2 separate regions of the Homo sapiens genome follow, and region 2 is linked to region 1. Evidence: fine-mapped expression QTL. A gene starts in region 1. The other region holds a variant in brackets. All regions are shown on one strand. Distances are from middle to middle. Region 1 holds the start of RSPO4 (R-spondin 4). Region 2 has its middle 37 kb from the start of RSPO4.

The links. PIP is the estimated chance that this variant, and not a neighbour inherited with it, causes the effect. A credible set is the group of variants that fine-mapping cannot tell apart.
Region 2: its variant is the best candidate, but not a certain one, in a credible set for the expression of RSPO4 in sigmoid colon (GTEx, PIP 0.66).

What each region holds. Positions count from the first base shown.
Region 1 is chr20:999,455-1,004,807 of GRCh38, reverse strand. RSPO4 (R-spondin 4) reads left to right here and starts at 2,497. Exons shown (of 5, transcript NM_001029871.4): 1 at 2,497-2,722. The coding sequence starts at 2,644.
Region 2 is chr20:1,036,288-1,041,660 of GRCh38, reverse strand. No RefSeq gene overlaps it. Among named protein-coding and RNA genes, the nearest start is that of RSPO4, 37 kb to the right of the region's middle. The variant A/C (reference allele first, on the strand shown) is at 3,172.

The DNA.
Region 1 (5,353 bases):
CTGGCCCTGCTCACATGGAAGCTGTCCCCTTTGGACTTTGGAGACTCCAGTACTGGGGGTAGTGGGGAAGGGAATGACCTCCGCTTTCCTAAGGCTTGATCTTCTGGGGTCACCTCATTTCTCCAAGTACCTGCATTCCATGTACAGGCTGGGAGACTTGTGCATCTGGAGAATTCATTCATTCACCATTCATTTATTTATGCACTCATTATGCAAACATTCTGAGCACCGCTGTGTGTCTGGCTCTGGCTTGAAAGAGATGGCAGTTTGGAAGGAGAACAGACACATCCATTGTTACCACCTGATGTGATCAGAGCTGTGATAAAGAGATTGTGGATGCCCAGAGGAGGCACTGGACCTGGCCTGAGAATCAGGGAAGGCTTCCTGGAGCAGAGGCAGTGAAGAAGGAGGTAGGATATAGGATGGTATTCCATGGAGAGGCCCCACAACATGAAAAGCTCAGAGGTGTGAGAGGCCTGTGGTGTTTGTGAAATATTCAAGGGCTGAAATCTCTAAGGCTAAAGAGAGAGGGGTGGGGCAGTGGGAAAGACTGAGATCAGAGATATCAGAACAAGAGGTCCTTGCAGGCCATGGTGATGACCACAATGGGACACCTGGATGCCCATGTCAGCTCAGTCCTTGACTCACTGGGTGGCCTAATCTAGGCACCCCCCAGTCCTGAAGGCTCAGTGGCCTCATCTGTGAAATGGAGCACTTTGGGTGGGCTGTCTCTGACATTCCACCAAGTTCTCCGTGTTGTCTGCCAGCGTTCTTGGGGCCCCACAGAAAGAATGGCCAGGCCAGGGCTGTACCTTCAGCTGCCACACTCTCTGTGTGTTTCCCCTGCCCCTGCCATGCCTTCAAGTGTCCCTCATTGCACTGGGAGAAGGAGCTGGAGGAGATACCAGCATTTACCTTCCATTTCTTTTGGAGCAAGCTCCACATGTAGGAAAAAAGAGGACAGGCTGGGTGGGGTGGCTCACGTCTGTAGTCCCAGCACTTTGGGAGGCTGAGGCAGGTGGATCACTTGAGGTCAGGAGTTCAAGACCAGCCTGGCCAACATGGTGAAACCCCGTCTCTACTAAAAACTACAAAAATTAGCTGGGTGTGGTGGCAGGTGCCTGTAATCCCAGCTACTTGGGAGGCTGAGGCAGGAGAATCACTTGAACCCAGGAGGCAGAGGTTGCAGTGAGCCGAGATGGCGCCATTGCACTCCAGCCTGGGTGACAGAGTGAAAACCCATCTCAAAAAAAAGAAAAAAAAAAGAAAAGAAAAAGGAAGGACAATTGTTCAGCAAGAGAGTGTCAACTGTAAGTTTCTCTAGGCCTCCCTCCAAGGCCTCTTCCATTCTGATGAGTCTGTGCCTGAGAAGTGGCTAAGAGGGGCAGGCACTGGACCAGAATGGCCACTGACCTGCTGTGTGGCCTTGGGCAAGTCACTTGGCCTCTCTGAGCTTCCCTTTGCTCCCCAGAAAAGTGGAATTACTCAGAATACAAACCCAAACCATTGGGTTGTTTTGAAGACTCTAGTATATGTCAAGTTCTTAGCAATGCCCACCATATATGCCTCACAAATGATAGCTAGCATGATTGTTGTTGTTTTTGGTGGTTATAGTGACAGGAGAGGTGAGCATGCTGTCGGGTTGAAGGAGGAATTTTGCTCTGAAAGGGTTAAACTTGAACCAGCTGCTCCCAGTCCTGGTGATAAGGTTGGAGGAAACACAGTCCAGGTCCCCAGCCCTGTCACAAGTGGATTTATGAGGTGCTGGTCACTTTGAGTCGGAGTAGATGATCCCCGCAGACTGCACAGGAAACATTCAGGGTTAGTGGCCAGAAGGGGCTCAGGCCTCTGTTAAAAGAATGAGACAGAGTAGAGAGAAAAAGAGAAAGCCAGGCAGCAGGAGCCCCGCAAACACCCCACCCTGCAGGAGGGGAGAAGGGGAGAGATGGGGTTGAAGGGAGAGACAGAGAAAAGGGAGAACCAGAGGCCCAGCCAGGAGGACACAGACAGTGAGCCTGAGAGAGAGACGGCCGGCAAGAGTAAAGGATGCAGGAACAGCCAGGCAGGGTCGGGGGCAGAGCAGGGGAGCGCGGGCCGCGGAAAGACCGAGAAAGCAGGAGACAAGGAGTTGTCCTTAAGGGCCAGAAGGAGGAACAGACAGAGAAAGGGGACTGGGGGGAGGGAAAGAAAATCACAGGCGCTGAGAGGGCGCGGGGGACCGTACGGGTCTCCGGGTGTCCGCGCATCTGTACCTGCGCGCGCGTGCGTACCTGTGGCTGGCGGTGGGCACGTGCACGTGCTCGGGGGCAGTGCTGGGGGCGGGAAAGACGCAAGACCGCCGGCTGCGGGACAGATCGAACTCGAGGGCCCCGACCCGGGTGACCCCCGCCCCCTCCCCGCGCGCGCTCCCGGGCCCCGAGCTGGTTAACGCGCCGCCCCCGCCGCGCCGGCTCCTCCCCGCCAGGGCAGTGCCCCGGCTCCGCCAACGCCCTCACTAGACCTGGCGGCCGGACCGACCCGCGCCTGGCGGATGCGCCCGGCGCGCCCACAGCAGCCCCCGCGCCCGCCGTGCCGCCGCCGGGACGTGGGGCCCTTGGGCCGTCGGGCCGCCTGGGGAGCGCCAGCCCGGATCCGGCTGCCCAGATGCGGGCGCCACTCTGCCTGCTCCTGCTCGTCGCCCACGCCGTGGACATGCTCGCCCTGAACCGAAGGAAGAAGCAAGGTACAAGGGGTGGCTGGGCAGGGCGGCCGGGCAGGCGCTGCGGGGCAGACCGGGGGCCGGAGGACCGGGGGCGGCGGCTCTGGGGGCATCTGCCTGGTGCCTGGCGCCCTGGGTCCTTCGCTCCTCCAGACGAGTCTCAACCTCACTTAAGATGGGGAGATTGAGGCTCCAGGGCACCCAGTGAGCGAGCCATTGAGTAGGGTGGGCCAAGGAGACTCACCCAGAAGGGAGAGGGTAGCAGGGCTCTCTGTAGTAGCCGCATGGTCAGCAGAAAGGAGGATGGCTTCGTGCAGAGACAGAAGACTCAAGAGCCAGCCTGCGGGGCACAGGGACTAGGAGACAGACTCAGTGGCGTAGAAGCCATTCCAAGCATCCATGCTCGGCCAGGAAGTGACATAGAGAGCCTTGGGCTGGGCGTCCAGAGGCCCCAGTCCCAGCCTCATCACTCACCCTGACTCCTGGTGTCACCTCCCAGAGGGCAGTGATCCTCCATGGCCCCCCTATGTTGAGTTCAGCCAGACCTGAGACCTGAGTTCAGGTTCACTTATTCTAATAGGGGATGACCTAGAAGAAGTCCAGCCCCTCAGAGAGCCTCAGCTTTTCCATCTTCACCTCTCAGGCCACTAGGAAGATGAGCCAAGGTTCAGATTATAAATGTACCAGGGGCCGCATGCGCTCTCACCTGGGAGTCCTATGCCACAGCCTCGCTGTGAGAGTCAGAACATCCTCAGAAGGTGGGTTGGAGGCTGTCCCTGCAGAGCAGGAGTTGGTAGAGCCTGTGCCTCAGAGAAGGGTAAGCGGGTGAGCAAGTGAGCAAATCGCCTGCCTGAGCTGGGCAGCCCTTTGGCCTCCAGGTGCCACTCTTAAGATCAGCAGCCGAATGCCAGCCACTATGCCACGGGTTTTTCATGTCCTAGCTCATCAAATCCCAACTATATGCTCATGACATAGGGGTCGTCCAGTTTTAATAAAGCCTGGGATTCCAAGGCTCAGACTGGTTTAAATAACTGCTGAATTGTCCAGCTGGTGTCTTCTCTCTTTCCAGCCCTGGCATCGGGTCTGAGCAAGGATAAAGGGGAAGGAAAATGAGAGAGGATGGGTTGCCCTCTGGGGCCTTCCATTTGTGTGAAAGCCCTACAGCGACACAGTCACTCCTGGAACGGAGCAGGAAGCAGACAGAGGCTGTGGGAGAATTGGGAGGTGGGATTGGATGGGGTTGGGGAGACTGTGGCCCAAGAGGCTCCAGTTCTTGCTGTGACAGTGGGACAAGGGACTAGAGAGGCGTGTGGTTTTCAGCTGAGCTGGGGTGAGTTTGGGACTCTATGGGGACACTCCTTTGTGAATGGCCTTTGTTTAGTAGTTAGGGGCATGGGCTCTGGAGCCAGGTCAACTGAGTTCAAATCCCAGCTTCCCCAGTTACCAACTGAGTGACTTTGGATAAGTCACTTTGCCTGTCCAATCCTCACTTTACCCATCTGAGGGTCCTTTAGAAGATCTCTGAGATCTTTCTCCATTCTAAACAATACCAAAAAATCAAACAAACCCCCTTTCCCTTCATCAACCCATCTTTTACTTAAGTATCCTGCTCATAAGGAGGATTGTGGGCAAGATGAGTAGCTAAGGACACAGGCTCCTAATGGGTGCTCGTAAGTATTAATCATTCTCATTTCCTGTCCACTGTGTCTTTGGCTACTCACAGTGGCTTAGTGGAGGGAGGGGAGAGATGCTTGTTTTCTGGATGAGGGAACTGAGGTTCAGAGAAGGAAACTGACTTGTCCAAGGTCGCACAGCAGGTGAGTAGCAAAGCAGGCTCGAATCCCAATCTGCCTGACATAATGCTGAGAAGATATCTTCTGAGGTGTGCTGGTCTTCCCTTCTCAGAGCCTCAGTTTCCTCATCTAAAGAGGAGCTGGTTTAGGCCAGGTGTGGTGGCTCACGCCTGTAATACCAGCACTTTGGGAGGCCAAGGCAGGCGGATCATTTGAGATCAGGAGTTTGAGACCAGCCTGGCTAACATGATGAAACCCTGTCTTTACTAAAAATACAATGATTAGCTGGGTGTGGTGGCGGGCGCCTGTAATTCCAGCTACTTGGGAGGCTGAGGCAGGAGAGTCGCTTGAACCCAGGAGGCAGAGGTTGCAGTGAGCCGAGATCATGCCACTGCACTCCAGCCTGGGTGTCAGAGTGAGACTCTGTCTCAACAACAACAACAACAACAAAAAGGAGCTGGTTTAGAAGACTTTAAGATGCTTCTCAGCTCAAAAAAGACAAAAAAATTAAAGAAAAATGAAAAATTCCTATCCTGCCCCTTTTGCCCCCCGCCCCATCTACAGCTCACCACCACCTCCCCAGGAGCTCAGTGAGGAGGTAGGGATATGGCCGCAATTTGGTGAGGGGCTCTCAGCATCCCTCCTCCAGTACCTGATCTCTTGCCTCTGGGACACACACCTGCCTAGCATCTTCAGAAGAGGCTTAGGGCTCCATTTATTTGTTGGGGTACAATGGAGATAGCCTTGGATTTCAGTCACACCCCTGACCCAGTTGTATCATGTGACCTTGGGTGAGTGGATTTTCTCTGTCCCCCGCCCATAGCCTCAGTTTCCCACTGGCACTGCAGTGGGGACCAGAGCT
Region 2 (5,373 bases), 37 kb before region 1:
GCAGGGGAACCTGCCTTGGCAAAGCCCTGAAGGCTTGTGTTCAAGCCCCAACTCATCCAAGATTTCTGCAGCCAGGCCAGTCTCCCTCTCCTCCAACTTGATCAGCGCTGATGGGTAGTGGGCAAACACTTACTGCTTAATACTTCATCACACACTATCCAGCCATGGTTACTGATGTTTCATCAAAGTAACAACCTGTGTTACTTTGGGTTTCCTGGTGAGTGCCTGAGCATCAGCAGTCAGAGGCCTTTTCTGTTTAATCTTTCATTCATTTACTCATTCATTCACTAATTCATAAAGGATTTGTTTATTTGCTTAACAAACACTTCTCAAGGGCCTCCTCCATGCCAGGTGCTGGGTCAGGTGCTGAGGCCCCATGTCTGAACAGTCAGGCTTCCTGCCCTGGAGGAGCTCATGGTCTCATGGAGAGAATAGATGAGAACCATCCATGCCAACAAGTAAATATAAAAAAGCAGTGATGACTTCCATGAAGGAAGCAAAAAAGAGGTTGAGAGATGATGTCAGAGAAATCCTACTTACTATAGGGTGATCAGGGAAGCCTTCCTGGAGGCAACAGTCAAGTTGAAACTCAGAAGATACAAGGAACAGCCATGAGAAGAGTGAAGAGGAAGATGTTCCAGGCAGAGGGAACAGCGTGTGCAAAATCCCTAGGTAAGAAAGAGTTTGGCATGCTGAAGAAATAGAAAGAGGCTAGGTTGGGGATAGCAGAGCAAGCTAGGGGCAAAAGAGTGGGAGACAGGGCCAGGACACATAGAGCCTGGTAGGCCATGGAGAAGAGGTGGGTTTTTGCTCAGAGCACAGTGGGGTACCATTGCAAGCTTTCAAGTGGGAAAATGAGAAGATCTATTGGATGCCAGGTAGGTGGGACCACAGGAGGCACCTGGGCAAGAGATGCTGCACATTAGGCCTCTTCCCCACACCCAATCCTTTAATCCCCCCATTTGTACACACCTTGTGATGGGAACTCAGTACCTTGGAATATAATCCCCTCCATTGTTGGATAGTTTGAGCTGATGGAACATTATCCCTTTTATCAGTGACCCTCAAATGTTTTCATCTCAGCACACTTTATATCCTTAAAAATTATTGAGGACCCCAACAAGCTTCTGTTGATGTGGATTATATCCACAGCCAGGACTAGAGTGAGTTAAACGAGGCACTTGCCTCAGGTTTAAAATTTGTGTGCCAAAAATATCAGTAATTAGGACATTTTAATGCAATATTTTGAAAAATTCACACTGAAGCCTGAGATGAAAGGAAAAATCAGTAGTATTAGTCTTCTCTTTATTTACAGTTTTAGTATTTTGTTCATCATGAATGTTTTTGCATTAATTTTTTTCATTGCTATCAGAGTGATGGTGGCATCACATGTCATATCAACTTTGGACAACCCCACTGAGGGTTAGAAGAACAAATAATGTCTTAGTGTTGTTGTGAATATAGTTTTGACCATGTGGATGCCCTGGAATGGTCTCAGGAACCCCACAGATTCTGGACTGTACTGTACTTTGAGAACCATTGCTTTTTTTTTTTTTTTTTTTTTAGACAGGCTCTTGCTCTATTGCCCAGGCTGGAGTGCAGTGGTGCAATCTCGGCTCACTGGAACCTCTGCTTCCCATGTTCATGCAATTCTCCTACCTCAGCCTCCTGAGCAGCTGGGACTACAGGTGTCTGATGCCACACCCAGCTAATTTTTGTATTTTTAGTAGAGATGGGGTTTCACCATGTTGGCCAGGCTGGTCTTGAACTCCTGATCTCAAGTGACCTGCCCGCCTCAGGATTACAGGTGTGAGCCACCATGCCCAGCCTGAGAACCACTGATTTTGATAAAACCAAAATCTTCATGGAGTTTCCACCATTCAATCTTAGGTCTATACCCCAGGGCTCCACCCATGTCTGTCTTCAAGGGGGCAGTAGCTGAGAGGCTGAACTTTAGAATTCATGCTTCTTTCCATCTAGTCCACGCTCAAGGTCTCCCAGAGCATGGGATTCCCACCCATCTCTCCCCATCCCTCCTCTAAACAAACCCCATTTGGTTAATGTTTCTGAAAGACTGAAGGCCCCCAAATTCCCAGGTGTGGCCTGAGCAGTACGGAGGTCCCTGTGGACCTGTCACCTCCCCCTTGAGACACGCCATTTCTATTCCCACCTCTGGGTCTATCTAAGCCCCCAGCCACCTGTCCCATAGTTCCTGTCCCTCATCCCTCCTGGCGTTGTGATTTGAGTGTGCAAAACCTCTCTGGGCTCCTGAAGAGCAGGCATCCTACCAAGAAATAGCAATGCAGGCAAAGAAAACCTCCAACGTATTAAGCTGGCTTCGTTAGGAGGCCAACTTCTGAAAATTCAATTTGCTGGTGGTAGAAACAGGATATTGAGTCTGGCCAGGATGGGCTCTGAGGAGGGCATCTGAGGGGGAAGAAAGGAGGCAGCAACCTGCGGGGGTAACGGTAACGTTGGGTACATTCCTCGGCAACACTAAAACCCACTGCTAATCACAAACAGATTCCTGCCTGCCCAGGGGCTTTCTTTGTTCACTCCGATTTCTCCCTCCAAACATGACACTGAATCCACCAGGCTCTGCCTCTCTTGGACTTCTGTCACTTCTGTGGGCCTCAGTTTCCCTGTGCTATATGAGAGGACTGGGCTAGGGTCTGTAATCCAAGCCTAATATCCCAGGATCTAAACTTCTCTGACTTAAAAGTCCCCAAGAATCTGGAATTCCAGGATTATAACATGCCCAGATTTTATGACGGCAGAATTTGATGAGTCAATGATGGCAGGTTCTAAAGTGCTATGATTTTAAGACTCTGTGGCTTGAAGATCCTGACCTTGTGACTTTCTACGATTCTAAAATTTGAAGAGTGTAAGTCTCAACGACTTTAAGTGTCTGTGAGGCAGTGCTGTGTGCTTTAGAGCCAGGCGGCCAGTGACCCTGGGCAAGTTACACCTTTCAGTGCCTCCGTCTTCACATCTGTGAAGTGGGGGGTCACATTGTTACTACCTTCTGGGGTGGTTGTGAGGATTAAAGGCGTTGATATTTGTAAACAATGTCTGGAGTAGTAAGTACTCAGTAAATGTTTTGTACCTATCATTATTCTAAAATGAACAGTTTCTACAGCCTCAGAATCTGAGATGGACCTCAAAGGCCCC[A/C]GAGTTGTAAGTTTCAAAGAATCCATTGTTGAAAGATTCAATGACATACGAATTCTGTCAGCTGGCTATGGACATACCATGTTTGGGCGTCCTTGACCCAGGATCATGGGATTTACCATGGGCAAGCTGAAGAGGCTGGCTGGCCAGCCTGAACCTGCCACTCTCAGCCACAAAACCAATGAGCATGACAAGTTTGGGACCCTCAACTCCTGAGAAGTGCCCTCCTCTTCCCCCAACACTTACCACTGGGGATAACTTGACCTTCTGGCTAAAGGCTCATTGACCTTGACTAGCTCCTGGAATCCATAAAGACACAGGAAGACCATCACTCCCCTAGCTTGGAACTCCATTCCTGAAGGACCTGCTGTGGCTCCCTACTGTCTTTCAAACCAAGTTCTATTTCTCAGTTCTTTTGGAGCCCCTTAATATCTTGTTCACTTCCAGGTAAGTAAAGATAATCCGGAATGGGGAAGGGAGAACTGGGATGGTTCATCGGAAGTTACTTCTAGGTCCAGGTGCATTTGTTCATTCTTATTCACAACACAGATATTAAATATCTATTATATGCCAGTCTCTCTTCTGGGCTCTGAGGACACACAAGTGAATAAGACAGACAAGGTCCCTGTTCTTGAGACCTCACAAGACTCCCTGACTCACTGTAGAGCATTATTCTCAGGGTAGAAGAGTACAGGCCATTTCCCAGCTGCACAACCTTGAACCAATGCTCTGGGCGTCGTTTGTAAAATGGGTCAATAACACTACCTACCAGATAAAGTTATTGCAAAGATTAAAAGAGATGGTAAAGAGCTTGGCACAGTGCACGGCACATAGTCTACAATCCATGAAAGCTGCTTATTATTATTATTGTTGTTACTTCATTTCTACCTCCAGCTCCTTTTACAGCACTTAGTGTGGTGGCTAAAAGCCCGACAGACCTGGACTCAAGTCCTGGGATATTAAAGATGGATAATCATCGTGCCTGCTTCCCAAGGCTGCTTACCTGGCATGTTGGCCATACCCAGCCAGGGCTCAGATGGTAACAGAGACACATTCTCACTTTCCTCCACTCTTTCCCCGAGAACCCATCCCAACCAGCCTCACTACCTGCATCAGGTCCCACACAATGCACAACCTGAGCAACTTCCTTTCCTCTTTGGGTTCCAGTGTCTTCCACATAGGGCCTGAGTAAAACTGGCTCTAAGACATGGGCTGAGACATTTGGGCATGACACAAAGGGCAATAGGGAGCCAAAGCTGGCGCTAGAGAGAGGGAGTGTCCATCTAAAGGGTGTCCCCTGTCTTCCAGTGGTTCCTCTATACCCTTTGCATCTCATCCTCACAGCTGCCAGGGGCTTGCTCCTGCCAATGCTGGCCATGAGTCCCTGGCCTGTTTGGGGGTTAGGTTATTTTTTCATTAAGTTTGTAATTATTTTTAAAATGCAAGTCAAATAGTGATGTGCTGAGCTGAGCAGCGGGGAGGTTAAAGCTTTTTCCCTGCCTGCGGCCTGCTTGGCCCCTATGCTGTTCTGGGTAATGGGGAACATTTTCGGGAAAATAAACAAGGAGGCCTTGATTCTTTGGGGACTTTATGAACTTGACCCCACCCCGACTCCATACCCCACCCCGTTAGCAGGCCTGGTCGCCCTCCCTGTTAATTAAAGGGGAGACTAGTTTCCAGGGCAATTTCAGCTCTGGCCGGGCCTGTGCCCACATCCTTAAGAGGGAGGCCATGGTGATGGGCCGGCTGGGCGGCTGGTGGCCTTGGAGGTAACAATTTGTCTTGAGATGGAATCCACTCCCCTGAATAAAGGGACTTTGTGTTCTCTCCCATTCTCATGCCCCCCTGGTCCCCATGGAGGGATTAGAGGGGAAACATCTGTGGTTCCCCAAGAACAGTGACCGCCATGGTAGGCAGCTCTTAGGCCACTGCCTGGGCCAGCAGGACTTTCTCATGCACACTGGGCCTCTGTCTGTCCTCAGAGCTCTGCCTTCTCATAGAAAACATGGATCCACGCAATCACTGGCTCATTCATTTGTTCACTCAACAACTCTTTATTGAGCATCTACTGATGTACCAGGTGCTCACAGGCACCGAGTGTATGGAGGTGAAAAAGCAAAGCTCCCCCTGGTCATGGAGCCCATGATCTAGTGGGGTCGACAAACCTAAAGATAAATAAGTCAATCAAATCCATTGGCAGGCAGT